5 separate regions of the Homo sapiens genome follow, and all the other regions are linked to region 2. The links come from fine-mapping of genetic effects on gene expression. A gene starts in region 2. Each other region holds a variant in brackets. All regions are shown on one strand. Distances are from middle to middle.

Region 1 (6,110 bases), 55 kb after region 2:
TTTTTTTAAGTATGAGATACCATAAGGGAGGATCAGGAAAGGGAAAACAGGATTTTTAAAAAAATTGGAACAGGGAATAAATAGCAGAGAGGAACATCCTTTTTTTTTTTTTTAAACAGAATCTAACCAGGTACCCATTATACGATCTGCATTTGTCTGGACTGTCACTTGAGCTGTTCTCTGAGCTGTCTTCATGTAACTATTAACTCCCTGATCTTTCTGAGGCTGCCTGTGTGAGGTGGCAGCCTTGTTTAGTCGGCAAACAAGCTGTTGCTGAGGACTCTTGACAACATGAGCAGGCATTTCCCAGTTTGAGGAAGTCCCTGTGGCCTGTGTTAGATTCGGCCACCAGCATGCACAGAGCTGAAGCGTGGGTGCAGGCATTGGCTAGATGGGGTTCAGCCCCTTTCCCAGAACTGAAACTGGTCCCAATCCATCTCTTGGCTCAGCACTCCAGGAAGGCTATTTGAGGAAGCAAACCTATAAGGAACTAAGAACAGTCATGTGTTCATGATTGACTCACTCAGGGTTTCCTCTTTAGCACGTGACCCTCAGGCCACCCATTCCTTGGAGTGGGCTGAAAGTTAATGATTCGTTACTGCCAGGGACGCTTTATTTGAGCAACTCCTTTTTTTCTCCTGGCTTGAGTCACAGGTAGCATTCAGCATGGACTTTGGAGCCAGCCTGTCTGAATCTAATCACTCAGCTCCACCAGCTCTGTGACCCTGGGAAAGTTATTTAATGTCATCCTATCTCAGTTTCTTCATCTATAAAATGGGTATCATCATCATCATCATCAGGATTTCTGTGAATATTATATGAGATAACACATGCAAAGTGTTTACAACAGTGCCTGCCACACGGGAATTTAAAGTATCTAGAAAGTGAAACAACCCTCAGTTGCTAACTTCAAAAATAGAAATGAGCTGAGCTTGCACCTGTAATCCCAGCACCCTGAGGGGCTCAGGCAAGAGGATCACTTGAGGCCAGAAGTTTGAGGCTGCAGTGAGCCATCCATGATCATGCCACTGCACTCCAGCCTGGGCGATAGAGTGAGACCCTGTCTCTTTTAAAAAAGAAAAATGACAAATGATTTCTCATTGTGATGTTAGTATGTTACGTTTGTCTGATATTTTACAGTTTCCAAAATGCTTTCATATATGTTATGTAAGTTGATCACAGGGGCTAGGTAGTAGTTAGAAAGTTTCACCTTTGTAAGAAATAGGCTTGGAGGCCAGGCATGGTGGCTGTTGCTATGTTGCTCAGGCTAGGAGTTCAAGACCAGCCTGGGCGACATAGCAAGACCCCATCTCTACAAAAAAATTTTTTTAAAAAATTGATCAGGCATAAATATGATTGTGGGTGACAGGGGGAGACCCTGTCTCCGCCCCCCCCCAAAAAAAAAAAAAAAACAGAAAAGAGAAAGAAAAAAAGAAATAGGCTGAAGAAAGGGCATAATCTGGGAAAGATAAGGGAAAGCATGTAAGGGATCCTTTCTCAAGGAATGCATTCCATTGCCTGGGGCACTGCCCCAGGAGGAGGTGAGGAAAGATGCCTCTTAGCAAGCTATGTGAGCCTGCAGGGAAGGAACACTTCCCCAGTGTCCGATCCAAAGGAGAACCCTGCCTTGGGTGGCGACAGAACCAGATGAGCTATTAACAATGCCCTCCTGGCCACCAGCACTGGCAGGCCCCCATTTCTTCTGGGCTTCCTCTGGATCAGAGAGCACCTCTGAGATCAGACCCTTTCTCTCCCTGCTGGAGCCAGGCCTCAGGAGCTTGGTAATGTGTGAGAACAAGCACAGAGGAAACCATGAAGGAATCTGAGGTTTCTCTTCAAAAGAGAGAAAATTCCAGATGACCAAATATCACTGTACTCTTGGCGGACAGAATGGCTTCATTTGTCCTTTCAGTGCTAAAACCAGGACAGTCCTGGGCAAACTGGCATGGGTTGGTCACTCAGACACACAGTAGCCCTTATCAAAGTGGTCCAACGGGGATTAAGGACAAAACCATTAAGTATTCAAATTTTAAGTATTCAGTTAACTTGGGGAGACTTCTTTATAGGTAGCTATTCCTTGGTAGTTTTTTTTTTTTTTTTGAGATGGAGTTTCGCTCTTGTTGCCCAGGCTGGAGTGCAGTGGCACGATCTCGACTCACCGCAACCGCTGCCTCCCAGGTTCAAGCGACTTTCCTGCCTCAGCCTCCTGAGTAGCTGGGATTAAAGGGGCCCGCCACCACTCCTGGCTAATTTTGTATTTTTAAGTAGAGACCGGGTTTCTCCATGTTGATCAGGCTGGTCTCGAACTCCTGACCTCAGGTGATCCGCCTGAATCAGCCAAAAAGCTGGGATTATAGGTGTGAGCCACCACGCCCAGCTTCCTTGGTATTTCTTTATAGGTAGCTGTATTAATAACATTCCCTTTGTGAATTACAGTGTCTGTTCAGTGTTTCTGTAGGGCCAGTATTCTTCAATGTAGGGTTTCTCAATCTTGGCACAGTTGATATTTTGGATTGTTTTAAGGGGTTTTCCTGTGCATTATAGGATGTTTAGCAGTATGCCTGTGCTTATTAGAAGCCAGTAGCACCCACCACCAAAAATGTCTTCATGCGTTGCCAGATAACTTCTTGGGGACCCAAATGGTTCCCAATTGAAAACTATTGCCTTGAGGGGTCTATGGCAGCTCCCATGTTTTAGGGGAATTGACCCAAACTGATTATCTTCGTAACCTATCTGATGTTCTCTTCATTTTTTGTTCTTTTCCTCCAGTTTTGCCAATTCTGATGCTTTTTCTTTCTTCTTTGATACAGAGTCTCACTCTGTTGCCCAGGCTAGAGTGCAGTTGTGTGATCTTGGCTCAATGCAACCTCTGCCTCCGGGGTTCAAGTGATTCTTCTGCCTCAGCCTCCCGAGTAGCTGAGATTACAGGCATATGCCACCACACCTGGCTAATTTCTGTATTTTTAGTAGAGATGGGATTTCACCACGTTGGCCAGGCTGGTTTTGAACTCCTGATCTCAGGTGATCTGCCCACCTCAGCTTCCCAAAGTGCTGGGATTACAGGCGTGAGCCACCACACCCAGCCCATTTCCAATACTTTGATAGCTTCCTTGACTTTTTCATCTTCCCTGTCATCTATAATCTTGTGATTACCTATGAGATTCTAAAACATACCTACAGAATACAGGTTTGTCTAACGTTCTGAAAAGAGTCATTCTGTTGAATTATTTTTGGAATCTGGAAATTCTTTCTTCTAACTTTTCAGTTTGTCTCAGTCGGGTGTCCCCTGAGGTTCTCTGGAATCAAACAAATAAAAGTCTTTATTTCTTAGAAAAACCAGAATTAAACTCGGTCTTAACTGAAAAGCTTGTTTCTTCTCATGGTACTAGTTTTACCCAGTCTATTTCTGAAATAATGAGATTATATTTTATGTAAAACTTTAGGAGGAGTTTCCTACACTCTGGGAGAATATTTAGATCTCGGAAGTCTAATAACCCACAACAACTGCAGAGAGGCTGCAGAACGGAAGACCATTTGCACAATCTGGATTCTTCCACCTCGTGCAGTCAGCCCTGTTCTT[C/T]CTCATTATTTAAGTGAAAAATATTCTAAACACTGCTCTTCGGTTGCTATGAAAGCTTTGTGGCAAAAGGTCATCTGATCCACCATAGCCTTTAACAAATGAAAATTTAAACCAAAGATGTCTAATACAATTTTATAAAGTTTTACAGAAATGGAAATTATGATTATCTTTCTTAGGAAACTGTTCCAATTTTTCATTACCCTCAAAGTCAAAGTTTATTTTTCTTTCTTTCTTTCTCTTTCTTTCTTTCTTTCTTTCTTTCTTTTTCTTTCTTTCTCTCTCTCTCTCTTTCTTTCTTTCTTTCTCTCTCTCTCTCTTTCTTTCTTGCTTTTCTTTTTTTAGACAGAGCCTTGCTCTGTCTCTTCCCCAGGCTGGAGTTTAGTGGCATGATCTAGGCTTACACCAACCTCTGCCTCCCGGGTTCAGGCAATTATCCTGAGTAGCTGGGACTACAGGCACATGCTACCATGCCCAGCTAATTTTTGTATTTTTTGTAGAGATGGGGTTTCACCATGTTGGCCAGGCTGGTCTCGAACTCTTGACCTCAAGTGATCCACCAGCCTCAGCCTCTCAAAGTGCTGGGATTACAGGCATAATCCACTATGCCCAGCCTAGTTACCCTCAAACTCAAAATTTCATCCTTTTCTTAACTACTGAAGACAATTTCTCTTTATAATATTTACTTTATTTGAACAAATTTTAAGCTAATTATAAAATTAACAGTGGCCCTGGAGAAACACAGAACACAAAGGAGATAATTAAAATCACCTGCAGTCCCAGTACCAGGGATAACTGGAATTAATGTCTTTAAAAAATGCATATAAGATGTGCTTACCAAATTCTCTGGTTAGATTTCTCTTCTTCAGTTCTCAACTAGGGATAGAAAACACTTCTACAATTTTTTTTTTTTTTTTTTTTTTGAGATGAAGTCTTGCTCTGTCACCTAGTCTGGAGTATAATGGCGCAATGTCGGCTCATTGCAACCTCTGCCTCCTGGGTTCAAGCAATTCTTCTGTCTCAGCCTCCCAATTAGCTGGGATTACAGGCACCTACCACCACACCCAGCAGCTAATTTTTGTATTTTTAGCAGACAGGGTTTCACCATTTTGGCCAGGCTAGTCTTGAACTCCTGGCCTCAAGTAATCCGCCCGCCTCGGCCTCCCAAAGTGTTGTGATTCCAGGTGTGAGTTACCGCATCCGGCCCACTTCTGCAATTTTGTGGTGAATTTTAATATATTGTACTTTCAAATGAATAAACAAGGAGGCTCACAGGAAAATTGAAGAATGCATAATGTTGAAGACTTTTTCATTATTATTATTTTTTAAAATTTTTATTATTTAAATTTAAAAAATAGAGATAAGGTCTCACTATGTTGACCAGGCTGGTCTTAAGTGATCCTCCCATCTCGGTCTCCCAAAGTGCTGGGATTACAGGCATAAGCCACCACAGCCGGCCCACTTTCATTATTAAGTTGTTGTTTTGTTCAAATAAACTACATGTGGGTACCAACTGTTCTTAGTTTCTAATCTGTCTTTAGGGAATTTTTTAATGCTATGCAAGTAAATACACTTAGAGCTTCTATTCCTCTCCTTTTCCACAAAAAGTAGAATGTTAGGTGCAGCTTGTTTTTCTTCACTTAACAATATATCTTGAAGATTTCTCAATAACAGTACATTGAGAGCTTCCACATTGCCTTTTTTTTTTTGAGATGGAGTCTCGCTCTGTCACCCAGGCTGGAGTGCAGTGGCGCAACCTCCGCCTCCTGGCTTCAAGCAATTCTCCTACCTCAGTCTCCCTAGTGGCAAGGATTACAGGCGGATGCCACGAGGTCCAGCTAATTTTTGTATTTTAGTAGAGAGGGGGTTTCACCAGGTTGGTCAAGGCTGGTTTCGAACCCCTGACCTCAGGTTATCCACCCGCCTCGGCCTCCCAAAGTGCTGGGATTACAGGGTGAGCCACACCTGGTGGGTTTTTTTTTTTTTTTCCAGTAGTTTTTGAGGAACAGGTGGTGTTTAGTTGCATGGATAAATTCTTTTTTTTTTTCTTTTTGAGATGGAGTCTCGCTCTGTTGCCCAGGCTGGAGTACAGTGGTACAATCTCGGCTCAGTGCAACCTCCGCCTCCCGAGTTCAAGCAATTCTCCTGCCTCAGCTTCCTAAGTAGCTGGGATTACAGGCATGGACCACCACGCCTGGCTAATTTTTTTTTGTATTTTTAGTAGAGATGGGGTTTCACCATATTGGCCAGGCTGTTCTCTAACTCCTGACCTCAAGTGACCGCCTGCCTCAGCCTCCCAAAGTACTAGGATTACAGGCGTGAGCCACCGTGTCCAGCCAGATAAGTTCTTTAGTGGTGATTTCTCAGATTTGGGTACACCCATCACCCGAGCAGTGCCCACTGTATCCAAAGTGTAGTCTTTTATCCCGCACCCTCCTCCCACCTGGTTTGTATTTTTTAAAAAAAATTTTATGTAGTTGAATTGTCAATCTTTTATTGTGATTTTTGGATCATGAGTCAGAATAGAAAGGTC
Region 2 (6,110 bases):
TTATTTTTATCATTTTTTAAATTTATTTATGTGTTTATTTTTTTTTTTGAGACGGAGTCTTGCTCTTTCGCCCAGGCCGGAGTGCAGTGGCGCGATCTCGGCTCCCTGCAAACTTCACCTCCCGGGTTCAAGCCATTCTCCCGCCTCAGCCTCCCGAGTGGCTAGAATTACAGGTGCCTGCCACCATGCCCAGCCAATTTTTGTATTTTTAGTAGAGACGGGGTTTCGCCACGTTGGCCAGGCTCATCTGGAACTCCTGACCTCAGGTTATCTGCCTGCCTCGACCTCCCAAAGTGTGGGGATTACAGGCGTGAGCCACCGTGCCCAGCGAGAATGTCCCCTCTAGAATCCTTCAGCTCAGACAGTCTGTGACAGCGAGCCTTTTTTGAGGCCATAATCCAGATACTTCTGGAAAAGAAAAGAAAATTTCAGGCTAATATGGAGCTGGGTTTTTTAGTTGTCTTAAGGGGGTGGAGCCGTTGTTTGTGCCTGGCAGCATCAACCCTTAGGTCTGGTGAGGGAACTTAGCTAAGAGAGTTCCCACTGCCTGCTGTTCACAGTACATGCTGGCTGGTATCGACAAAGAATGAACCTAAAACACAGGAAATGTTGAATTTGTCTGGGTTAAATTTTGCCTCATGAGAAGATAAAAGATCAGAAGGATTTAAAATGTTCCAGAATGCTTTGCTGGTTTTAAGGAATCATTTTTCCCAAAGGTGGCAAATGCTGCTTTTTAAATTTATGGTTTTCTTGATACCCCTTCAGCCTTTGTTTCTCTCTCTTAGGACTACTACTTTTTAATTAATTTTCACTTAACTTTCCAATACTGATGAAATAAAGAAAAATGAGGGTTATTTATATATATTTTAATAAATCCAGTTTGATTTTTCAACTTAAAAAAAAATTAACTAGAACTGAGAACCAGTCCTGGCCTCACCACCTTGGACTTACACTTAACCTGTGTGATCTCAGTGTCTTCATCTGCAAAATGGGGACAAAATAGCTCATAGGATCATTTTGTAAGGATCACATAAAGTAAGAAGGGTGAAAGTGCTCCATAAAGTAGAAAGGGCCTCACTAATGGAAAGGGATTATGATTTCTTTCTTTAAATGTGAAGTTAAATGGAGGATAAAGGGTGGAGGCACTGATAACATTTTAGCCTTCAATAATCACTTTTTAATATTTATGAGGAGTTTCAAAATCATTTCCCTCTCTTTCATACTGCTTTTCAAACGGCAAGGGTCATTATTTGTCCGGCCCAGTCTGGGATAAGTAACTATCCCAGGGTAAGACACCAGGTCAAGTGCCAAAATACAAATGAGAATTAAGCATAGCAGATGGGTGATTGCTGGGCCCTGAATTTCCTTCCCGTTAGTGAGCTTCATGGAATGCAGGCAAATTTATCTCCATTTCTGTTGTCAATCTTGTAACTTTTAAGTGAGATGAAATTCAGTTGGCTACCCTTTACAGGGACTTTATTTCCCATTGTATTCAAGACTGTCAGCAATGAATATAAACTGTTTGTAAAAATCCCATCGTTAGAATCTTCCAGAAACTGAGGCTGGGAGAGATTAAATATCTTGCTCATGGCCTCACAGCTGGTGAGTGGCAATGCTGGTGCTACAGCCCATGTCTAACTCTGACCACACACTCTTCTTCAGAAAAAAGCCATAATGTAAATAATAATAAGAAGAATAACAACAACAATAACGGCAGCTAACACTGTGTGCTAGGCACCGTTCTAAGCTCTTTGCATGTGTTAACTCAACCAGCAAAGAACCATTTTTGGAACATTCTTTCACTAAAGTAGCCCGGTATTTTTTTCTTTCCCCTCAGCTGAATGACACTGCAACCCGAAATCACAACTCTGTTTTAGGTTCCTGGTGGTGCCTGCTTCCTCTTCTAGTTTGTTTAGTCACAGAATTCGATTCCTGTTGGCCCATTCCGCGCCTACAAACAGGCTTAGCGCTCCACTGAAATGCGGGAGGCTCCTTAACTCTTGTATAAACAGGTAAGGCGGAGGGGGTGGGGCGCGGATTGCGGACATCTGGGTTTCTTGGGAATTGGGATGGGGTGGGGGTTCGAGCCAACTCCCCAGAGAGCAGGCAAGGTGAAGCGAGGGCTTGGCTGCTGTTTCTAAATGCAGTGTTTTTTTGTTCCCTTTCTAGAAACCCTCCGTAACTCTAGGTCAGAGCGCACTAAAATGAGCCACTTCTGAACGAGCAGCGCCCAGGCCCCAGGCCCTGCTGCGAAGGCCCCGGCAAAGGTCAGGGCCCCGTCCGCGTGACGCTCCTGCCTGCGCGCGGCCAAGCCATGCTCGGCCCCAGGTAAGGACGCCCCGGGAGCTCGCCCCGGGAGCTCTCCCCGGGCACGCGGGGGTCGCAGAGATCCCACCTCGTCCAGCGACTTGTTTATGGGGGGAAGAAGGGGAGCGGGGCGGTTCCGATCGGCTTGAAATTCAGCAGCAGGTTCCTAATTTCTCCAACGTGGTTCTGGCTGGGTTTCTCGGAGCAGCCCGAAGGGGGCCGAGCGTCTGACTCGGACAGATGCCCCCAGGTGGAGCAGGTGCCACTTCTGGGTGTCTGAAAGGCATGTGACTTTTGGGGCGGGGAGAGAAGTCCGTCTGGTCAAGTCCCCCAATCTCTGCCATCAAGGCCGATTTTCTTTGAACCTTCAGCAAAGGTATCTGCGCTCCTAAAAAACAACAGGAATGTGGCACTGGCCTTTAGCCAGGGGAGGCTCAGCCAGCAGGATAAAATTTCAGGGCAGATTTACGGGAAGTTGCCGGTGTTGGGAGTAAAAATCTGGTTTGGTGAGTTTAAGGGAAGGGAGTAGACGAGAGACAACCTTGCTACTGTGAGGCGGATGGCCTCGGCAGGGGGCGGGCGGCGGGAGGAGAGAGGGAGGGAACCGGGAAGGGCCCGCAGACTAGACGCTGAGCGCTCCCGTGCGCAGCGCCCCACGCAGCCGGGACGCGGCGCCGCTCTGCGGGTGGAACCGCCGCGCGCTCCCGGCCTCGGGAGCTGAGCCCGAGAGAACTTCGCTGCCTTCGGGTCGCCGCTCCCGCTTTCCACTGTGGAATGTGCAGCTTGGGATAGAGAGAAACCAGGGTTTGGGGAGCGGTCCTCCTGGAGACTTTCTCTCTGCAAGTCTCCAAGGTTAAGCAATTCTGACCCACTGGAATTCCCAGAGCCTGGGAGTTAAGCCTAAAACGCTCTGTTGCTTTAAGCGGCGCGGTGGGGAGTCGCTGGACACTCCTTATTTTGGTTTTACATTAAAAAGAAGGCGGACGAGAAGATGTTGTAGGTGACTTCCTAGCTGTGTTAAGTTGCTCCTGGGCTGTGAATGGTGTTAATTTCTGAAGTGGGCGGCTCCAAAAACTTAACAAGGAAAGGTAAGGTGGTTTTTGGTAGTCCTTCTAACTATTGTCCCTTAATCTTACATTTGGGTCCCAATTTTTGAAGTGTATATTTTTTTCTTATTCTTCTCTCTTTAGCTCTTATCCCTCATGCTATCACTCATCTTCTGTCTCTTGGTATATTTAGTGGGAAATAAAGGGTTTATAAAACGGTTTTAAAAGGGTCAACCTCTGGGAAGGCAGATAATCATATACAGTCAGTCCCATCGTGTTTCCTGTAGTGATGAATCTTTTCCCATAAAAGAAACTGATTTTTTTTTTTCACTCTTGAAAATACATGATTGGACCGCCCAGAAGCACAGGTGACTTTAGACTCAGATTATTACAGTGAGACTGAGGAAGCGTCCTGGACAGGAGGCATCTCATTTAAGTGTTAACCAAGGCAGAGGGGGGTCTTCCTGCAGTAATTTACGTCTGAAAGTAACACTCGGTAGAGGTGTAGTTGTTTCAAATTAAAAATTCAGCCTGTAGAAAAGGGTAGGACTGACGAATTATGACATCTGACAAATTAGCAGTTGACCGGATATTTAAGAAATCAGATAAAATAAATGGAAGTGGAATTTTTCAAATAAATGACTCATTTTTTAATTAGGTAAAAGTTCAGCCACTCTTGGGTACTGTCCCAAGGCATAAGTGATAGGAAGATACCATCTTCAAGGTACTTACAGGCCATTACCGACCTGAACTAAAAATCAAACCTTTTTTTTTTATCTGGTGGTATTTTAATGACTCACTGTTTTCTTTAGCAGGAATATAGATTTTAAAATGTATTCTTTAAAAGTTTTAAGGCAAGGTCATACGAATTTCTCAGGGGAGGGAAAGCAAAGGGTTGACAACCCAACATGAAGGAGTTGCCGAAGTTTTGAGCTCAAAAGGTTGGCAATTAGATCCAGAGCATTTGAGAATTGCAGGTGCCGATTCTAAAAGGTGAAAGGTGGTCAGCGGCGTAACACACAACCTCTAGATAAACCAAAGTACTCAACCTAGAGCATAAGAAGAGATCACTTTGTGGGAGTTTGTGTTGCTATTAATTTAAACAATGATCTTTGTTAGATCAATGACTTGAAGTCTTGGAGGGAACTAAAATCAACCCAGTCTGAAAGGAAAACAGAAGGAAAAAAAGAAAGGAGGAGATGGTTTGGTTTTTAATATTTTTTTCTGGTCTGCTTTACCCTTCACCTTGTTCTGATATACACACTGTTGGCCTCTTTGACTTAATTATTGCATGCTGGAAGGATGGGGTCTCAGAAATTTCCCAAGCACCTAGCTTCATTATTAACTTTCAGTATGTGTCAAATGAAGAAATAAGCCTAGCTGTGCCGTCCTTTACCTGGCTAGGTAGGCCATGCTTTAAATTAATTAGATCAAGATATTCTGAATATCAATCAATTATTAAAGATTTATTATCTTCCTCTTGGTTTTTGCGTTTACAGAAGTTTGTAGGATTGAGAATTCATCATCATCATTTTTTTTACCAATCTCTATATTTTTAATAGTCAACATATTTATTTTTGATTCCCCCACTGTGCTGCTTTAAATTAAATTTTGAAAGAATTCTGCCCAAAGCAGTAGTGATACTGAGGATGAAATAAAGACAGAAAGCAAGGGAACTACATGCTTCTGGACACGTGTTCTATAGACTTGCTCTAACTAGTGTTAAAGACTACTCATTTTTTTCCTCACATGATAAGAACATTCATATTAGACTATTTGGTTTACTGTTCTAGGTAATGATTTTTTAAAAGATTGGGTTAAGATGAAATTATTTTCTTACAAAAGGATTTAATTTGCTTTTCAAATTCTGCTCTGAAGCTCAAGATTAAATCATGTCCCAAATGACTGAGCTTTCATTGCTATAGAAAAGCATTTGGCTATTTCAGTAAGTTTCCGCCTCCACATCTTAAGTCTCTTGATTTTTCAGAAAAGGTCAGGGGAGTGGATATAAGCGTGAAGGGAGGGAGATTTTCTTAAAATTGGACCCAGGCTCAAGTGAAACTGTGATTAGGTAATCCCAGAAGATACATAATTCTGGGGAAAAAAAACTCTGAAGAGGGTTTAAGTTTGGGATTCATGAGACTTAGAAAAAGGGTATGCTTAGAATAAAGGTAGAATTTGTGTGCCAAACTTTGATGAAGTTACAATGAAGACATTAAATGCAGCTTTAAGTGCTTGTCACCGTGATTCCAAGCTACAGGTTATATTGCAGTGTTTCAGCTACTGGCCTGATTAGGAGATATATTTTCTTTCCCTCTTGGGAACAGTCTCTGTGTCTTAATGATGATGCTGATTTTCTGGTTTAATATCATAAAAGGTGTGTGTTGGTCCCAACATTACTGCTCCAAGTAGTGGCTTCAAAGAGCAACTGGATAAAGATTTTCAATAATAGCAATGCAGAGATGACCTGGGTTTCAAGATAGGAGGCCTTTGGAGCCTTCAGAGAATTGTCATAGAAATGATCAGTAACTAATTGCTCAGTTGCCACCTCAAGTTGTTGTTTCCATCTTATGCGGGAGAGATTCGGGGGAAATGGCACCCTGCCATTTTTTGTGTGTGGTCCTGAATCATCCTGTTGGTAAAACTCCTGAGGTCGTCTGAGCTGGAGTTCTGATTGCTTCTGTTTCTCTCATAGTTGCTTCCCCGTCTATTCTGTGAGCGTCTGTATGGGGAGAGGCAGTGGGGAGGGCGATCTCG
Region 3 (6,110 bases), 74 kb after region 2:
TTGACTCTGTCGACCAGGCTGGAGTGCTGTGGCACGATCTCGGCCCACTACAACCTCTGCCTCCCGAGTTCAAGCAATTCTCCTGCCTCAGCCTCCCAATTAGCTGGAACTACAGGTGTCCACCACCACACCTGGCTAATTTTTGTATTTTTAGTAGAGATGGGGTTTCACCATGTTGGCCAGGCTAGTCTTGAACTCCTGACCTCAGGTTATTTGCCAACCTCAGCCTCCCAAAGTGCTGGGATTACAAGCATGAGCCACCATGTCTGGCCCATTTTTTTTTTTTTTTTTTTGTAGTTTTAATAGAGACAGGGTTTCACCATGTTGGCCAGGCTGGTCTTGAACTCCTGACCTTAAGTGATCCACCTGCCTCGGCCTCCTGAAGTGCTGGGATTACAGGCGTGAGCCACCATGCCCAGCCTCAGTACATATTTTTTAGACATTTACTCATTCAATAAATGATTGAGTAAATGAATGTCTAAATGTTAAAAGTCACAGAATTCGATATAGTTTAAGTTAAAGCAAATGACAGACCAAAAGTTCACAGGGAGAAAAAATGATTTCTGAGCCTGTGTTAATGAGATATCTGTAATTTAAGAGGAGAAATCCCAAATTTCAAATATCAACTTATACAAACTGTGAGTCACTTATTTCTCTGAGCTTCAGTTTTCTCCATCTGCAAAAAATGAGAATAATAATATCTGTTTTGAGCACAAAATGAAGCAACAGTGTAAAAAGATTAGGTGCAAAACTCCACTATGGGAGCTTTGAGGAATTCAGGACGATGTAATTTACACTGAGATGTGCTTATAATCTGCTTGGGAAGACAAGATCTAACCAGAGTACACATTAAAAAAGAATAAGAAAATTAAGCAACAATCCACAACTATAAAGATAACAGGTCACTGAGCAACATATGATAAATTGCCAAATAGGATTGCCTAGGCAATAACAATTTCACAACTCAGAGGTGGGAGAAGGCCTTGTGTTTGTCTGCTGAGGAACCTCTGATTTTTTATTGTAAAATTCTATACTCATGCATTCATTCATTCAACAATTTTTTTTTTTAAGGTGGGGTTTCGCTCTTGTTGCCCAGGCTGGAGTGCAATGGTGCGACCTTGGCTCACTGCAACCTCCGCCTCCTGGGTTCAAGCGATTCTCCTGCTTCAGCATCCCAAGTAGCTGGGATTTCTGGCACCCACCACCATGCCCAGCTAATTTTTGGATTTTTGGTAGAGACGGAGTTTCACCATGTTGGCCAGGCTGGTCTTGAACTCCTGACCTCAGTTGATCCGCCCACCTCAGACTCCCAAAGCGCTGGGATTACAGGCATGAGCCACTGCGCCCAGCCAACTCAACAAATATTTATGGAGCTACTAGGATGTGGCAGGTGCTATGCTTCATGCTGGGAACACAGATGAGCATATAGATATAGTACTGTCCTCAAGGAAATTACAGTCTAGTAGGAACAGCCAGTCAGTGAACAAAGAAAGCCAGGAGTATTTAATTAGAACCCACGATGACTGCTCAAAGGGAAAGTGTACACCAAGATGTGGGTGAGAATTAAAGGGTGGGACAGTCTACTTTGGGCATTGGGGAAGGCTTCCCTGAGGAATTGACATTTGAACTGAGATCTGAAGAATGGAGGTAACCCCAAGGACTTAGCCAAGTAAGCACACTGTGGGCCCAAATGATCAGCATCTTTTACTTCCACCAATAATGAATTTAGGGGACAGAAAAGTTGAAGCATAAATTATAATTGCTCTGCATTCTGGACATTAGGGAAATATCAATTTTTAATGAGCGTACACTTTCATATGTGCACAACTCCCCCCAACGTGCCCCCCAACACACATTCTCAGGCTCACAACCCACCTGCAGCTCTTCATCCCACCTCATCATGTAAATGTATATATATATATTTTTTTGAGACAAGGTTTCTCTCTGTTGCCCAGGCTGGAGTGCCGTGGCGCAAACTCAGCTCACTGCAACCTTTGCATCCTGGGCTCAGGTGATTCACCCACCTCAGTCTCCCAAGTAGCTGGGATTACAGGCGTGCACCACCATACTCGGTGAATTTTTTTATTTTTTATAGAGACAAGATTTCGCCATATTGCCCAGGCTGGTCTGGAACTCCTGAGCTCAAGTGATCCTCCCGCCTCAGTCTCCCAAAGTGCTAGTATTATAGGCATGAGCCACTGTGTCTGGCCCTCATAGTATAATCTTAAAAAGAATGTATTAGTTTGGTGCAAAAGTAATTGCGGTTTTTGCCATTAAAAGTAATAGCAAAAACTGCAATTACTTTATTTTTGAGACAGAGTCTCACTTTGTCACCCAATCTGGAGTGCAGTGGTGTGATCGTGATCCTCCTACCTTGGCCTCCCAAAGTGCTGGGATTACAGGCATGACCTACTGCACCTTAATCTTCATTAAGTAATGAAGATTACTTAACCTCATAGTGTAATCTTAAAAAGAATGTATTAGGCTGGGTGCAGTGGCTCAGCCTGTAATCCCAGCACTTTGGGAGGCTGAGGCGGGCAGATCACCTGAGGTCAGGAGATGGAGAACAGTCTGGCCAACATGGTGAAACCCCGTCTCTACTAAAAATACAAAAATAAGCCAGACGCGGTGGTGCATGCCTGTAATCCCAGCTACTCAGGAGGCTGAGG[C/T]GTGAGAACTGCTTGAACCCAGGAGGCAGAGGTTGCAGTGAGCCAAGATCACGCCACCGCACTCCAGCCTGCGCGACAGAGCCAGACTCTGTCTCAAAAAAAAAAAAAAAAGAAGATCTTTTCAGGTCTTTAGCAGGTTGGCTTCAGTGTTTCCCAGAGGCTCCTGGGGAAGATGTTCAAGGAGGCAAAAGTTTTGATCTCCAAGCCTCTGGATGCCATTTTCCCGAAAGTGGCCATGACTTCTGGGAAGTCAGCTGTTCTGTGCCCTAACTCACCTGGTGTCATCGCTGGTCCAAATTGCCTTCACAGGTGACAGCACAAGGCCACCTTGGCTGTTCATCTTTCCGAATTCTATTTCTGGGACCCACATCAGAAAAACAGTTGAGGAATCACTGACTTTCAGATCACATTCCCATCATTCATGAGAGAGGCAGGATGATGTGGCGGCCGCAGGCATGGCCTGCAGAATTAGGCTGCCTGATTGCAGTCCTAGCGTTGCCAGTTACTAGGTGTGTGATGTGGGCAAGTTACTTCTCTGCATTAATATAAGTGAGAAATCCTTGTCGAAACCCATTGGGTCAGATGTGTTTTAGAAGCCAGAACATTTCAGATTTTAGAAAGATAATATGTTGCACGTACCCTGTGTTGCTTAATACCACTCATCTCAGGCAGTATTCCTTGATCACACCCATCACTATTTCTTCAGCAGAGCGAATGGACACTCAGACATGCTGCAAGAAACGAAGGCTGTAGAGAGTCTCATTAGAAACTAGAAAGTCAGGGGCTGGGTGCGGTGACTCACACCTGTAATCCCAGCACTTTTGGAGGCTGAGATGGACGGATTACTTGAGGACAGGAGTTTGAGACCAGCTGGGCAACATGGCAAAATCCCGTCTCTATTAAAAATACAAAAATTAAGCCGGGTGTGGTGGCTCACGCCTGTAATCCCTTTGGGAGTCTGAGGCGGGTGGATTGCCTGAGGTCAGGAGTTCGAGGCCAGCCTGGCCAACATAGTGAAACCCCATCTCTAGTAAAAATACAAAAAATTAACTGGGCATGGTGGCGGGCGCTTGTAATCCCAGCTACTGGGAAGGCTGAGGCAGGAGAACCGCTTGAACCTGGGAGGCGGAGGTTGCAGTGAGCCGAGATCGCGCCATTGCACTGCAGCCTGGGCAACAAGAGGGAAACTACGTCTCAAAAACAAAACAAAAAACCAAAAATTAGCTGAGTGTTGTGGTGCGTGCCTGCAGTCCCAGCTACTCAGGAAGCTGAGGCAGGAGAATCACTTGAACCCTGGAGGTGGAGGTTGCAGCAAGCCGAGATCACGCCACTGCCCTTAAGCCTGGGAGATTCGTTAAAAAAAAAAGGAAGAAAGGGAGGGAGGGAGGGAAAGAAAGGAGAGAGAGATGGGGGGAAGGGAGGAAGGAACTAGAGCGTCGGATTTTGCTGCTAAATTATTTCTTTAAAATTTTTTTTCTTCCTCTAGAGCAATCAGAAAGAATGCTGAATTATTTCTAAAAATTACTTGGTTTTTCAGAGTTGTAGTGCCTCTTACAGGTGAGATGTACATCTTGGAAAGAATTCAATGAGAGCATATATATATAAAGTGCTGAGAACAGAAGGCACCATGCAAGTGTGAGCTTTCATAAAGTAAACTTACTTGTTATGATGAAGCCACTGGAGACTTCATTTGTGACACCGTGGCCAGCCCACCAGCTTTTGTCTTTTTTTTTTTTTTTTTTTGAGGTTTGCTTTGCATATCCCACTTTTTTCCTAGGTATTTTCCATGCTGGGCTATTTGACTTACGTTAGAAGCAAAGCAGCCCCCAGATGTTACTGTTGTGCCTGGTATGTTGTCAAACTGCACTTTAAAAGGACAGAGGACAGGAAGTAAATGACGCATGACTCAAGTGACTGGAAATGGTTCTCGGATAGGAAGTTATCATTGGGACAGTAATGAGAGGAAGTACAGTTCAGTTGAATGAGGCCTTAGAGAGCATTCGTTCCCTGGGCGCAATCCCACTGAGTGCATTCTTTGCACCAGGCACCGTGCTGGGTCCTGGGGTTGCGGAGATGAATACGGGACTGTGCATCCTTTAAGTGGTCCCGCGTCTCCTGATGTTCACCATTTCTATGTGAGCTTGGAGAAACCAGGTAACCTCTCTGCACTTGCGTACTCAGTTTCAGGACAAAAGGGCTGGCTGGCTCATCTTACGACGAAGGCCCTATTTTACCTTCAAATGTCTCTGATCGCAAAGAACTTCTTAGTAGAGGTTGCTGGCCAACCACTGTTCAGCACTCTGAATTCAAGTAAAGGACATGGGCTTTTTAGCTTGTTGATAGTAAAAGTCTTGGAACAGGTTTGATTAAGGGCTTATTATCTCTCCAACCAGGGGATATTTTATTTCTCAAATATTGACTATTGACTAGTGCTAGACCCTGCGTTAGGAGCTGGGAGTGCCTTGGTGAAGAAGAAAAAGTCCCTTATCATGGAGCTCACATTTTAGTGGGGCAGATAGATAGTGAAAAGTGATAAAAATGAATACATAATTGGCTGGGCGTAGTGGCTCACACCTGTAATCCCAGCACTTTGGGAAACCAAGGTGGGCAGATCACCTGAGGTCAGGAGTTCAAGACCTGCCTGGCAACATGGTGAAATGCCATCTTTACTAAAAATACAAAAAATAGCCATGCATAGTGGCATGCGCCTGTAATCCCAGCTACTTGGGAGGCTGAGGCAGGAGAATTGCTTTAACCTGGGAGGCTGAGGTTGGAGTGAGCCGAGACCACGCCACTGCACTCCAGCCTGGGTGACAGAGTGAGACTCTGTCTCAAAAATAAAATAAAATAAAATAAAAAATACATAATGCAATTTCAGATAATAATATGAGCAAAGAAGAGAAATAAAGATAGGGAAGAGGAAGAAAGAGTATACAGTTGGTGATTGGAGAACTCTTTTAAAAGAATAATCAATTCATGAAGTATTCCATATTAAAAAAAAAAAAAAGCAATCAGAGGTGGGGCGTGGTGGCGCGTGCCTGTAGTCCCGGCTACTCGGGAGGCTGAGGCAGGAGAATCACTTGAACCCGGGAGGCGGAGGTTGTAGTGAGCCAAGATCGTGCCACTGCACTCCAGCCTGGGTGACAGCGTGAGACTCCGTCTCAAAAAAAAAAAGAAAAAAGAAAAGAAAGTTGTCAGAGAAGACTTCTTGGAGGAGATGGCATTTGAGCAAAGACCTGAATTCAGTCAGGGAGAGAGCTAGGATGGGGGGTGGTGTAAAGGCTGGGAAAGGAAATTCCAGGTGGGGCCGACAGTGAGTGCCAAGGCAGGAGAAGAGGATGAGCTGGTTTGTTTAAGAAACGGCCAGAAGGCCAGTGGTATAGCCAGCACTGTGAGGTTGATGGAGAATGAACAGCAGGGAATGGAGCACAGCCAAGCCAC
Region 4 (6,110 bases), 31 kb after region 2:
CCATGTTGGCCAGGCTGGTTTCAAACTCCTAACCTCAAGCTCTCCACCCACATTGGCCTCCCAAAGTGCTGGGGTTACAGGCGTGAGCCACCACGCCCGACCCAGAGAGATTTCTTAATTTCCCCTAAATTGAAGGGCTAGTAAGTGGCTGAACTGAAACAATTTCCTTTAAGGCCTGTTCTTTTCACCACAACTTGGGGCCACCTGGGGTTGGCAGTTGGACTCGTAGTTTCCAGGAACAGAGAGCAGAGGAAGGAGGCCAGTGCGGGAAGAGTGGCAAACAGTATACATGATAAATCCACAATGGAAGCCTTGTAACTAATTACGTCAAGCCAACAAACAAGCAAGCGAAGCTTTTTTGGCATGCCAGTTTAAATCCATTGTTCTTTTGCTGCTTTTCTGCTTAAATAATTAAGGCTCTTAAGTACAAATTAACCTCAAGCTAACAAAAAGAGAATGCCATTGACTTGATTGAGATGTCATTGAAATCTTTTCCGTTGCGTTCAGGTAGTTTTCTGCACACATGAACTTTCCATGAGTGGTCATGGAATGATCCAGCATGTTTTTATCTGGACAGGGCCAGCGGGGCTTTCTGGTTTGACACACCATCCAATGTAGAAATGCCTCTCCAACATTAGCGATAGTCATGATCTGACAAGCATGTGCACCAAGAACTTCCCTTGGGCCAGGCACTCATTTATAGTTCTCTGAGATTGCTGTTACCAGTGTCTCTATTTTACAGTTGAGCAAGTAGACTCAGAAAGGCTAAGCAACTTGCCCTAAAACACACAGCTAATTATAGCAAAGCAGATCCAGATTCAGGTCTTCCTGATTTGGTATTTGGAGGGTTCAGTTGCTATGCTTCTTCATTGCTTCCGTCCTGGCCTTGAATTCTTACGGTGATGGTTACATCATCATTTCCGTGAGGCACTTGAGGCTGTGACTGGAAAGGCTTACTAGGAAGATCTTTTTTATGTTCTTCTTTCTTTTTTTTTTTTTTTTTGAGACGGAGTTTCACTCTTGTTGCCTAGGCTAGAGTGCAGTGGCGCGATCTTGGCTTACCGCAAACTCCGCCTCCCGGGTTCAAGCGATTCTCCTCCCTCAGCCTCCTGAGTAGCTGAGATTACAGGTGCCTGGCACCACGCCTGGCTAATTTTGTATTTTCAGTAGAGACGGGTTTCTCCATGTTGGTCAGGCTGGTCTTGAACTCCCGACCTCAGGTGATCAGCCCGCCTTGGCCTCCCAAAGTGCTGGGATTACAGGCGTGAGCATGAGCCACTGCGTCCGGCCTTGAAATCTTCTTTCTTGTAACTTTCATCTATAAAGCCTACTTCTGCTTGCTTTTCTTTTTTTTTGAGACGGAGCCTCGCTCTGTCGCCCAGGCTGGAGTGCAGTGGAGCGATCTCCGCTCACTGCAAGCTCCGCCTCCCGGGTTCACGCCATTCTCCTGCCTCAGCCTCCCGAGTAGCTGGGACTACAGGCGCCCGCCACCACACCCGGCTAATTTTTTGTATTTTTAGTAGAGACGGGGTTTCACCACGTTAGCCAGCATGGTCTCAATCTCCTGACCTCGTGATCCGCCCGCCTTGGCCTCCCAAAGTGCTGGGATTACAGGCTTGAGCCACCGCGCCCGGCCTCTGCTTTCAAGAATAGTATCAATTAAGATCCCTTCTTTAGGCCAGTTGTGGTGGCTTATACCTGTAACGCCAACACTTTTGGAGGCAGAGACAGGAGGATTGTTTGAGACCACACATTCCAGACCAGCCTGGTCACCACAGCAACACCCTGTCTCTACAAAAAAAAAAAAATTCATAAAAAAATTAGCCAGGTATTATGGCTGTAGTCCCAGCTGCTCAGGAGGCTGAGGTGGGAGGATCACTTTGAGCCCAGGAGGTCAAGGCCGCAGTGAGCTATGATGGCGCCAGTGGACTCCAGCCTGGGCAACAGAGTGAGGCCTTGTCTCAGGAAAAGAAAAAAAAAATTCCTCCTTTGGCGTGGGAAAGGCACTCATCCAAAAATTTAAAGTGTAGGGGTATATTAGTGTGTAGTTTCTAGAATGATGCCAAGGGCTCAGTTATCTCTTGATGTACAACAAACCACCCTATATTCACTGAGTGCCTACTATCTCATGATTTGGACCAGATTTGGGCAGAGCTTAGCTGGGAGATTCTGCTACATGTGCATTACCTGGGGTTAGTTGGTAGTATTCAACTTGTGGCTAGTCTGGCTTGAGGATTTTTTTTTTTTTTCTAATTCATTTCTGTATTCTCATCTGAAGGCTTGATGATTTAAGATGGCTTTGCTCACATGCCTGACACCTTGGCAGGAACGTTTCAGGGCCTCTCCATAAGGCCTCTCCTGCTGGGTGGTTGGACTTCTTACATTTCAAAGTGTCCCAAGCGTGAGTGTCCCAAGAGATAGGACAGCAAAGCTACCAGGCCTGGGTTTGGAAGCTGGAAGAGTGTCACTTCTGGGTTGAAGCAGGCACAGAGCCCACTCAGGTTCAAGTGGAGAAAGAGTGGATCCCACTTCTCAATGAGAGGAGTGTCAGAGAGTTTACAGACATTTTAAATCTGCCACACTAAGGATCAACCTAAATGGGTTTCCATTTTCCTGGGTTGGGGGTGGTAAGTGTAAGTACCTATTTGGATTTGAAAATCCTGCTGAACTTATTTTCTCTATTTTGTGGCATTTGAACTTTAGGGACTTCTCTTTCTTTTTTTTTTTTTTTGAGACGGAGTCTTGTTCTATCGCCCAGGCTGGAGTCCAGTGGTGTGATCTCGGCCCACTGCAACCTCCGCCTCCTGGGTTCAAGCCATTCTCTTGCCTCAACCTCCTATGTAGCTGGGATTACAGGGGTGTGCCACCACACCTAGCTAATTTTGTATTTGCTTTTAGTAGAGTTGGGGCTTCATCATGTTGGCCGGGCTGGTCTTGAACTCCTGACCTCAAGTGATCTGCCCACCTTGGCCTCCTCAAGTGCTGGGATTACAGGTATGAGCCACTATGCCTGGCCAGGGACTTCTCTTTCTAATAATTATAGAATAATGTTTACCAGTACTAATTATTTATTGAAGTCAAGGATGATGAATAAATTACG[A/G]CAGATTCCTCCTCCCCAACTCTTTTTTTTTTTTTTTTTTGGTTTTACAAGAATAAAAGACTTTCTGATAATTCATTTATGGCTTAAACACATATGAGCAGAGGACAGATGGACACTATAGAATATAGAATGTAGAAACCCTAAATCAAAGGATTTTTTAAAAATAGCTTAATTTGTACTCTTACTATATTACATCATTTTCAGACTTTCATTCCTGCAAAGCATTTGCGATGTTTTTATTCTTTAAAGCAGCATTTTATTTTTAAAAATTCACCTATTTATTTATTTGTCTCTTCTTTTTTTTTGAGACAAAGCATCATTTTAAAGTTCTATGATTGGGGCCGGGCGCAGTGGCTCATGCCTGTAATCCCAGCACTTTGGGAGCCTGAGGTGGGCAGATTGCTTAAGCTCAGGAAAGTTTGAGACCAGCCTGGGCAACATGGCAAAACCCTCTCTCTACAAAACAATACAAAGACTAGCTGGGCATGGTGGTGTGCACCTGTGGTCCCAGCTACTCAGGAGGCTGTGGTGGGAGGATGGCTTGAGCCTGGTAGGTGGAGGTTGCAGTGAGCTGAGATCACACAACTGCACTTCAGCCTGGGTGACAGACTGAGACCCCATCTCAAAATAAATAAATAAATAAATAAAGTTCTGTGATTGGGGTCAATGGTAAATCTCCTGTGTGCGCACTTTATTTCCCATTAGACATTGCGGCAAAATTCAGTGGTCAGTCCTCTGTATATTAGTAGAAGGAGTTAATTGAAATTGTTTCTAATCTTTTGATCCTTGTCACACTACTCTGCTATGCAATAATACACTAAAGAATTTTCAGAAAGTGAATGTTGGAGACTTAATATAGCTCCCTGCCTTAAAAAGATTCCGTTTTGTGGAGTTAGGCTAGCAGTTGGTATGCTAAATTGACCAAAAGATCTTGTTTTAGAAAACAGAAAATGCTTTAATGCAGAAATGAAATCAAGAGACTTAAGATTAGAGAGGTGAATACATTTTTGCCAGTGTCTGCTCCTTCTGGCTAGATGCTCAGGAAAATTTTTCATGGTGATTCAAAAACTGAAATAAGAGCCTTTTCATGGGCAGGTGCTATTGTTTGTTTGCTTATTTATTTAATGCCTTTTACTAACATAATCATTTCTGCAAAAAAATGGTAATGAACTTGGGCACATTTATGTGCATTGTTTTGTTTTATTTAAAATTTCCAGTTTATCAAATTATTTCAAAAAGTATTCATTTAAATGAATACATATTTAATACCTATATGAATATATAAATATTTATTCATTTATTTATTTGAGATGGAGTCTTTCTCTGTCACCCAGGCTGGAGTGCAGTGGCGTGATCTCGCCTCACTGCAACCTCCGCCTCCTGGGTTCAAGCCATTCTCCTGCCTCAGCCTCCAGAGTAGCTGGGATTACAGGCCTGGCTAATTTTTGTATTTTTAGTAGAGACGGGGTTTTGCCATGTTGGCCAGGCTGGTCTCACACTCCTGATCTCAAGTGATCCGCTCCCCTCAGCCTCCCAAAGTGTTGGGATTACAGGTGTGAGCCACTGCCCTCAGCCTATAAATATTTATTTATTGAAGTATTTTGATAAACTAAAACTATTTTTTTTTTTGAGATGGAATCTCGCTCTGTCACCCAGGCTGGAGTGCAGTGGCACGATCTCGGCTCACTGCAACCTCCGCCTCCTGGGTTCAAGTGATTCTCCTGCCTCAGTCTCCCAAGTAGCCGGGACTACAGGCGCGTGCCACCACGGCCAGCTAATTTTTTGTGTTTTTAGTAGAGATAGGGTTTCACCATGTTAGCCAGGATGGTGTCAATCTCCTGACCTCATGATCTGCCTGCCTCGGCCTCCTAAAGTGCTGGGATTACAGGCGTGAGCCATCGCGCCCGGCCGATAAATTAAAACTTTAAATACTTAAATACTTAATATTTAAAAATTTGTTTTATTTCTGACCTACTGAAAGGTACAACAAACACCTCTGTATCTGGGACCAACATGAGGAATAAACCACTGGAGAGATAACTGAAGCCCCTCGTGCCCCTCAACTTGATTCTCTCTCTCTCTTCTCAGGGGTGGCCACTCCCCTGAATGCAGTGATTATCCTTCCCAAGGACGTCCTTTTTCCTGTGCTACATATGGTGTGTACTCATACACAAGGCGTGGGGCTTTGCATTCTTGATGGTTAGGGAGGAAGATTAAAAGAAGATTAATCTTTTGGGCCACTTGGGACATTAGATGAAAGTCAAATTTCATTGTCCATAAATACAATGTTATTGGAACACAGTGTAAAGACCTATTTATGACTGTTTTGCTCAACATGGCGGATTTGAGTAGTAGCCACTCAAACTGTATGGCTCAAAAAGCCTAAAATTTTTCCCGTCTGACCCTTTACAAAATGGTTGCTAACCTCTTGTGTAGCATAGGCACACACACTACACTGAGTAAATAATCTGGCTACAGAAAGAGCAATATATAGGTACATGTGCCTGCACCAGGAAGTGAATAAAAGACCTCTTCCCCCCCTTAAACCTAAGAATTCTCCTGTCTTTTTCTCTTGCCTCAGGAGATCAGGAATGATCCACCTTTCTCCTCCCACCTCTATCCACGGAATGATGTTATCTTATTCCTCTGCTTTAAGCTTCTTTCCTCTTGCTCTTCCTTTTCCCACCTCATGTCGACAAAACCAGCAAATTCCATTTGTCCTGTGACAGAAAGAACAGCTCCAAGGATAGTCACGTCCCTGCTCCTGAAAGTTCTCATCTTAGCAGCATGCTTTGCCCATGTCTCTGATTAGGCACATTGCATTCCCTTGCAGCTTTCCTTGTCTTCTGTGGCTTAGAATGCTAGCTTATCAAACACTGACTGCGTGCAGAGAGGCTGCGTCCACACTGGCTGCAGATAGATACATGAAGACCAGCAAAAAGTAATTGAGCAAATAACATCTCTTTTTTTTTTTTTTGGCAGGGGGGACGAAGTTTCACTCTGTTGCCCA
Region 5 (6,110 bases), 200 kb after region 2:
ACAGATATTACCAAACTAATAATATACTATGAACGAATTTTTTTTTCCTTCTTCACAATTTCACAGATAGAAAATTTCTTTCTTACTGTAGTTCTTAGCAACCTCAGCATAGGATTTTTTTTCTTTCCTTATTAAGTAGAGAACTTTCCCCTTTTCATTTACAGGAAGGCCTTTAGTGCTCCTCGTTGGCATATCCAAATTGCCAGCATTACTACTCTTGCACTTTGGGGCTGATATTAAGTAAAATAAGGGTTCCTTGACGGTCAATCTGATAACCCAGATGGCTATTAAGTGACATGGGCATGGAGCACAGACAGTGTCGTTTTCCTGGACAAAGGGATGATTGGTGTCCCGGGCAGGATGGAGAGGGATGACATGAGATTTCATGGAGCTACTCAGAAGGGTGCACAATTTAAAACTTATGAGTTATTCATTTCTGAAATTTTCAGTTTAATATTTTCAGACTTCAGTTGACCGCGGGTAACTGAAACCATGGAAAGCAAAACCAAGTGCTTCCCCATATATTCTCATTTTACAGATAAGAAAATTAAGGCCCAGCAAGGAGACAGAATTGCTGGCCGGGAGTAGAATTGGGATTGGGAGATCAGATGCCTGATCTCTGCATGCTTTGTCCTTATAGTGTGGTGAATGCTATCATAAAAGGGACATCACATGAATGAAAAGAGAAGCCATGGGTTTGGGGACCTACTCTTGATTCCAGGCCGTAAGCCAGTGCATGTCTATGTGCAAAACTTGGTGTTGGAGTGGGCAGCCTGAACCCAGGTGTTGGGCCGTCCTGTAGCACATGGAAAGGTCTCTCTCACATGTTGCCTTCCCTGCCATTTCCTCTCCCTTTTTGCACTGGTTATTAAACCTACGTCCACACATGTGGAAAAGGTGACTTGTGTCTTGCTGTGAACCACAGTCTTTCCAGTTCTGGAGCTCCTCTCCCTGGTTGTAAAATGTCACTGATGAGACACTCATTGTTTAGGGTTGTAAGAAGCAAGTTAACGTAAGGCTAAAAGTGCAGGCTCCAGAGTCACACATTGCATTGCTTAAAAGCTGTGTCACTTTGTGCAGGTCATTTAACACTTCCACACAACTCCATATAATCATAGTACCAACTCTACTGGTGGCTGTGATGATTCAATACTGTCATACAAATAAGGCACTTAGAATAGTGCCTGAGTTTGGGGGTTTGTTTTGTTTTGTTTTGTTTTGTTTTGTTTTGTTTTGTTTGAGACAAGGTCTCACTTCCATTGCCCAGGCTGGAGTGCAGTGGTATGATCCCAGCTCACTGCAGCTTTGAATTCCCAGGCTCAGGTGATCCTTGCACCTCAGCCTCTTGAGTAGCTGGAACTACAGGAGTACGCACCGCCATGGCTGGCTAAGTTTTGTATCTTTTGCAGAGACAAGGTTTCGCCATGTTGCCCAGGCTGGTCTCGAACTCCTGGCCTCAAGCCATCCTCCTACCTCAACCTCCCAAAGTGCTAGGATTACAGGCATGAGCCACCTCACCCAGCCTCTGAGTTATTAATTGTTATAATTATCATTATAATTATAAATTAAAATTATTATAAATTATAATTACTATTTGATTATAGTTTTAAAAAGTAATCTTAGGCTAGAAGTTCCTAAGTTCCTTTGAGCACAATTTTGGAACTCTGATTTGCAAATTTTGTAACAGAAATTAGAGCTAATTCCTTTATAAAAATCCAGGAAGAAATAATTATTTTAATTCACCATTTCACATATGCTGAATTGTTTATTTTGAAGATGTATTAACATATAGGGAGACCATACCAGCATTTACTACCAGGCATTCTATGGCTCATGAGGTGCACCAAATATTTTGTTAAATGAATGTTTTATTTTATTCAGAATCTCTTTTCAATGAAGCATCTCACAGAACTAGTTCCATGGCAAACACTTTGGGAAATACTGAACCACAGTCTTCCCATTCATACTCCTGTTTGTTCTGAAAACATCTTATGTTGCACTTTCAAGTAGACAGAAGGAAGTAGCAGGGGCTTTTCTAGAGCCAGTGGTGGCCGTCAACAGTTCAGGCAACTTTACTTAGCTTGTCCTTGCCCACTTCTTCCTCATTTGGAAACTGCTCTTTATCCTTCAAAACTCAGCTCGAATATCCCCGCTGCTGAGACATTTTCTCCAACTTCCCCATTAGTTGGTTCTTTCTCTAAGCTTCTACAACAATTTGTATACATTAATGGTGTCATCTCTTAGGTGGGAGGTGATGGAAACCATCACATTGGCTGAAAATTGTGTATGGTCACAATTTTTTAAGGTCACAGCTTAAGAAGCTGTCCCTTTGGAGATCAGTATATTTGGTTTCTCTAAGTTGACACAGTCTGTTCCTCTCTCTGTCTCTGAGACAGATCATATTCCATCAGTTAAGTATGAGTTGAGGCAGCTGGCATGTATCTAGAGGCCATGTTTAAGGAAAAACACTGATTTTTAATTACTGTGAAATCAATTGTGTGGATGGTAGATTCTCCGCTGCCTTCTCTAGCTCACTCTGGGGCATAGACTGATTGAGTGGAATGGTAAGTAGAAGATTCCGGAATACAGTACAGAGAAGGTCCTCCTTATCCGCAGTTTCTGCATCTGGATTCAACCAACCGTGGCTTGAATAAAGACAATAAAAAATAACAATACAACAATAAAAAAATACAAATGTCAAAATACGATATAACAACTATTTACATAACATTTGCATCATATTAGGTATTATAAGTGATCTAGAGATTATTTTTAAAGTGTATGGGTCCCAAGACTTTGGGAGGCTGAGACAGGAGGATTGCTTGAGGCCAGGAGTTCAAGACCAGCCCTGGGCAACATAGTGAGACCTTGTCTCTATGAAAAAAAATTTTTTTACAGTATACAGGAGGATGTGCATAGGTTAAATGCAAATACGCCATTTTCTCTCAGGGACTCGAGCATCTGAGGATTTTGGTATCCACGGAGGTCCTAGAGCCAATCACCTGTGAGGATACTGAGGGGCAACTGTATTTCACCTTTCCCTCAGCCTTCCAGGCCTCTCACTTTCACAAGGTGGCATCACTGAGTTTGAGGATGCAGCTCCACCTTACCTCTTCAGTGGCTCTTCTCCCACTTGCTTACAATAATTGCTGTTTGCCCGCCCCTCTGCCTTTCTCTCCCTTGCTTTTGTGTCTTTGTATTCCCGTCTTCTGGGAGAGGCTTGTTGAATGAATGGATGATAGGTACATACACGTGTTCAGGAAGGCTCCTTTTTGTCTCTTCTCCTCAGGGCCGCCCAATAACTCCAGTATACACGGTGGCTCCAAACGTTCAGAGAATTCCTACTGCCGGGATCTACGGGGCCAGTTACGTGCCATTTGCTGCTCCAGCTACAGCCACGATCGCCACACTACAGAAGAACGCGGCAGCCGCGGCCGCCATGTATGGAGGATACGCAGG[C/G]TACATACCTCAGGCCTTCCCTGCTGCTGCCATTCAGGTCCCCATCCCCGACGTCTACCAGACATACTGAGGCTGGTGACCAGCACGAAGACAGACCACACAAACACCACTGAAGGAACGCTTGACTATTTATGAAGAAGGAACATGTTGGATTCACACATGCAACCTGAAAGTGAAGAATGTTAGCAGATTTATTTCTGAATTATTTTATATACATGAAGTTTTCACTAGTTTTTTAAGACTATTTTCAACTTAGCATGCCTACGTTCATACATTTCCAAAAGACTTGCAATGGTTCGTGCCTTCATTCCATCTTTTAAAAATTTGTATGCTGTACTACATTTGTATAGAGGTTTTTGTTGTTGTTTTTTTAAGGATATATTTTCAGTATGAAGGTTATTTTCTTAACTTCTGCACTCCAGAGATTTCTATTTTGTAGTACCTTCAATAATATATCAACTATATATTAAAAAAGCACACTTGAGGAGCTAGGGAACTATTTTGAAAAATATATACAATATTTAAAGATACAAACAGTAGTGCTTAAAAATACTACATAAAGCATTATTTTAAAGGTTATACTGGAAAGTGCAATTTTAAAATGAGTAAAACCTCTGTATTTCTGCTGGCATTAAGGGTTGATGGTGTTACCATGTATCATCATGGCGGTACTATTTTTTAAAAGAAATTAAACACTGGATCTCTCCTTAAGCCAACATTGAAAAGACTTGCCGCACTTCTGAGTCCAAACACTGGAAAGCTCTCCTTTGCCACCGTTAGCCGGGGCTCATTCTCCATGTGCCTTAGCCTTAAACATGCCCCCACTCCCACATCTCTCACCCTGTCCCCTCCTCCCCAGATTCCCAATCCCACCGCAATGTTTGGCAAGCCTAGGACTGATAAGTAGCTCTGATAGAGGAGCTGGTGGCTTTTATACTTCTTCCTGGGTTTTTGTTGGGGTTTGTTGTTTCGTTGTTTTTTGTTTTTTTTTTTGTTTGGTTGGGGAAGTATTGTCTTCTACGTGTGCTATTTTCAGTAGCAGAGTAAGCACAAGGTTTTAATCGAGTTGCATAAGACACCTTTGCATAGCTATTTAATTGCCCAATGTAAAACTTTAATGCCATTTCTAATGCTTTTATTCATTTTTGAAGTATGAGTTTGTAGGGACAAAGAATGTATGTTATCGTAGACAAGACCCCCAGAGACTCTTTTCAGCAGAAAGTTATGCTTCTAGTTGCCTTACCATGTTTCTTGCAAAACTGTCCATGGTCCTCAAGGGTGTTGGAAACATTATGTTTATTAAATGGGCCTCTCTTCCTTTGCTGTGCACTTGATGGGTGAACTGGATTGGGGTGTGCACATCCAGGAGGAGGAGGAGAGACCTGTAGAAGTTTAAAGATAGTTTGTAAATATCTTCTAATGCTTGTTTTTAGTCCTTTTATGTTGGAGAAGTTCATGGTATGTAGTTTAATGCAAAATGAAACCATTTTATTTCAATGTTATTAAAAAGGTTTGTTTTATTAGGAAGTTAATGTATTGTTGCAGTGTTTTGTGCCTGTTTAAAGGCTTTTGTTTAGCAGAGTGAATGTAAAATACAGTAAAATGTTAAGATTGTCATCTACTTTTTAAAAAAAAATATCAACTTGGAATTGTTTTTTAAAGGCTCAATCAAGGAAGTGAGGTGTGCAATAAGGTAGCAAGTAAAACGCAGTTGCGTTTTTATGTCATGTTAGAGATCCATACAATTTTCCACTCACGGGATTTTTGTTGATGGCTGAATTCTTGTGGATTCATAAGAGGATCATGCCCTTAGCAAGTACTTTTGTTTTGTTTTAAATTAAGAGATTCCCAAATGCCTTTTTCCCCCTCATCTTGAAATGAGATGAGTTTTTATGTGTAAGCAATATTTATTTAACTATTCTATAAAATTATTGAGTGCCTACTGAGGCCTTTAAGCACCGCTAACATTCCTTTCCATCATTCTTTTAAATGACATAAAATAATTGTGCAATGTTCCTGATGATGTACCCCACAAGCTGCATTCAAACTCAAATCTGTGGGAATGAGTGACTCGACAAAATGTAATTCGGATCAGATCCTCATCCCCTGACTGTGTGAAAAAAGTACTCTCCTTCTAGTGAAGGATTGTCACAGAGTTTCACTGGATGAAACTATGACCCAGTATTCTTACTGTATTTTACATATGCCTGTAAATTATTTGCAAAAAAGAAGAAGAAGAGGAAGAAAGAAAAGAAAGAAAAGAAAGAAAGAAAGAAAGAAAGAAAGAAAGAAAGAAAGAAAGAAAGAAAGAAAGAAAGAAAAAGAAAGAAAGAATAAAAAAAAATGATAACATGGCAACCACCAAACTCCCTTAAAAACAAACATTGGTGACATGGCCAATTAAGTATCAGTGAGCCTCCTATCTGGGACTTATCTGTTCCTATTGTTTCAAAACCATTTCATGTACACTACTGAGGTAAGTTTATAACTTGAAATGTGAACTTTTTTTTTTTTTAGTGTTAAGAACAAACTATATAAATGTAAAAAAAAAGTTTTAGAGTTCTGTTTTCAAACATTGCTAGTGGTTTAGTTAACTTTAGCTGCTTTATATTTGAAAAGCTTTTATTTAGATCTTGCTCCATTTACAGTAC

Alleles and levels. Alleles are on the strand shown, and positions count from the first base shown. SD is a standard deviation of normalised expression in the study named. Not every link is listed here.
As copies of G replace A in region 4, the expression in monocytes after LPS of the gene that starts at base 2,927 in region 2 goes up (moderate effect, 0.55 SD a copy in Quach 2016).

What was found. PIP is the estimated chance that this variant, and not a neighbour inherited with it, causes the effect.
Region 1: its variant is fine-mapped to the expression of RBM47 in whole blood (TOPMed, PIP above 0.99).
Region 3: its variant is fine-mapped to the expression of RBM47 in whole blood (INTERVAL, PIP above 0.99).
Region 4: its variant is fine-mapped to the expression of RBM47 in monocytes after LPS (Quach 2016, PIP 0.95).
Region 5: its variant is fine-mapped to the expression of RBM47 in whole blood (TOPMed, PIP above 0.99).

What each region holds. Positions count from the first base shown.
Region 1 is chr4:40,571,543-40,577,652 of GRCh38, reverse strand. The region is part of intron 1 of RBM47 (RNA binding motif protein 47); the gene reads left to right. Among named protein-coding and RNA genes, the nearest start is that of RBM47, 55 kb to the left of the region's middle. RefSeq lists enhancers at 125-324, 345-514. The variant C/T (reference allele first, on the strand shown) is at 3,581.
Region 2 is chr4:40,626,681-40,632,790 of GRCh38, reverse strand. It overlaps RBM47 (RNA binding motif protein 47), which reads left to right and starts at 2,927. Exons shown (of 7, transcript NM_001098634.2): 1 at 2,927-3,395. RefSeq lists enhancers at 3,064-3,133, 2,316-3,193, 3,194-4,070.
Region 3 is chr4:40,552,708-40,558,817 of GRCh38, reverse strand. All of the region lies in intron 1 of RBM47 (RNA binding motif protein 47), which reads left to right. Among named protein-coding and RNA genes, the nearest start is that of MIR4802, 54 kb to the right of the region's middle. The variant C/T (reference allele first, on the strand shown) is at 2,670.
Region 4 is chr4:40,595,879-40,601,988 of GRCh38, reverse strand. The region is part of intron 1 of RBM47 (RNA binding motif protein 47); the gene reads left to right. Among named protein-coding and RNA genes, the nearest start is that of RBM47, 31 kb to the left of the region's middle. RefSeq lists an enhancer at 6,048-6,110. The variant A/G (reference allele first, on the strand shown) is at 3,101.
Region 5 is chr4:40,423,323-40,429,432 of GRCh38, reverse strand. RBM47 (RNA binding motif protein 47) reads left to right here. Exons shown (of 7, transcript NM_001098634.2): 7 at 3,290-6,110. The coding sequence ends at 3,529. It overlaps RBM47-AS1 (RBM47 antisense RNA 1), which reads right to left and starts at 3,300. Exons shown (of 2, transcript NR_199039.1): 1 at 3,251-3,300; 2 at 1,851-2,645. RefSeq lists an enhancer at 2,812-4,011. The variant C/G (reference allele first, on the strand shown) is at 3,460.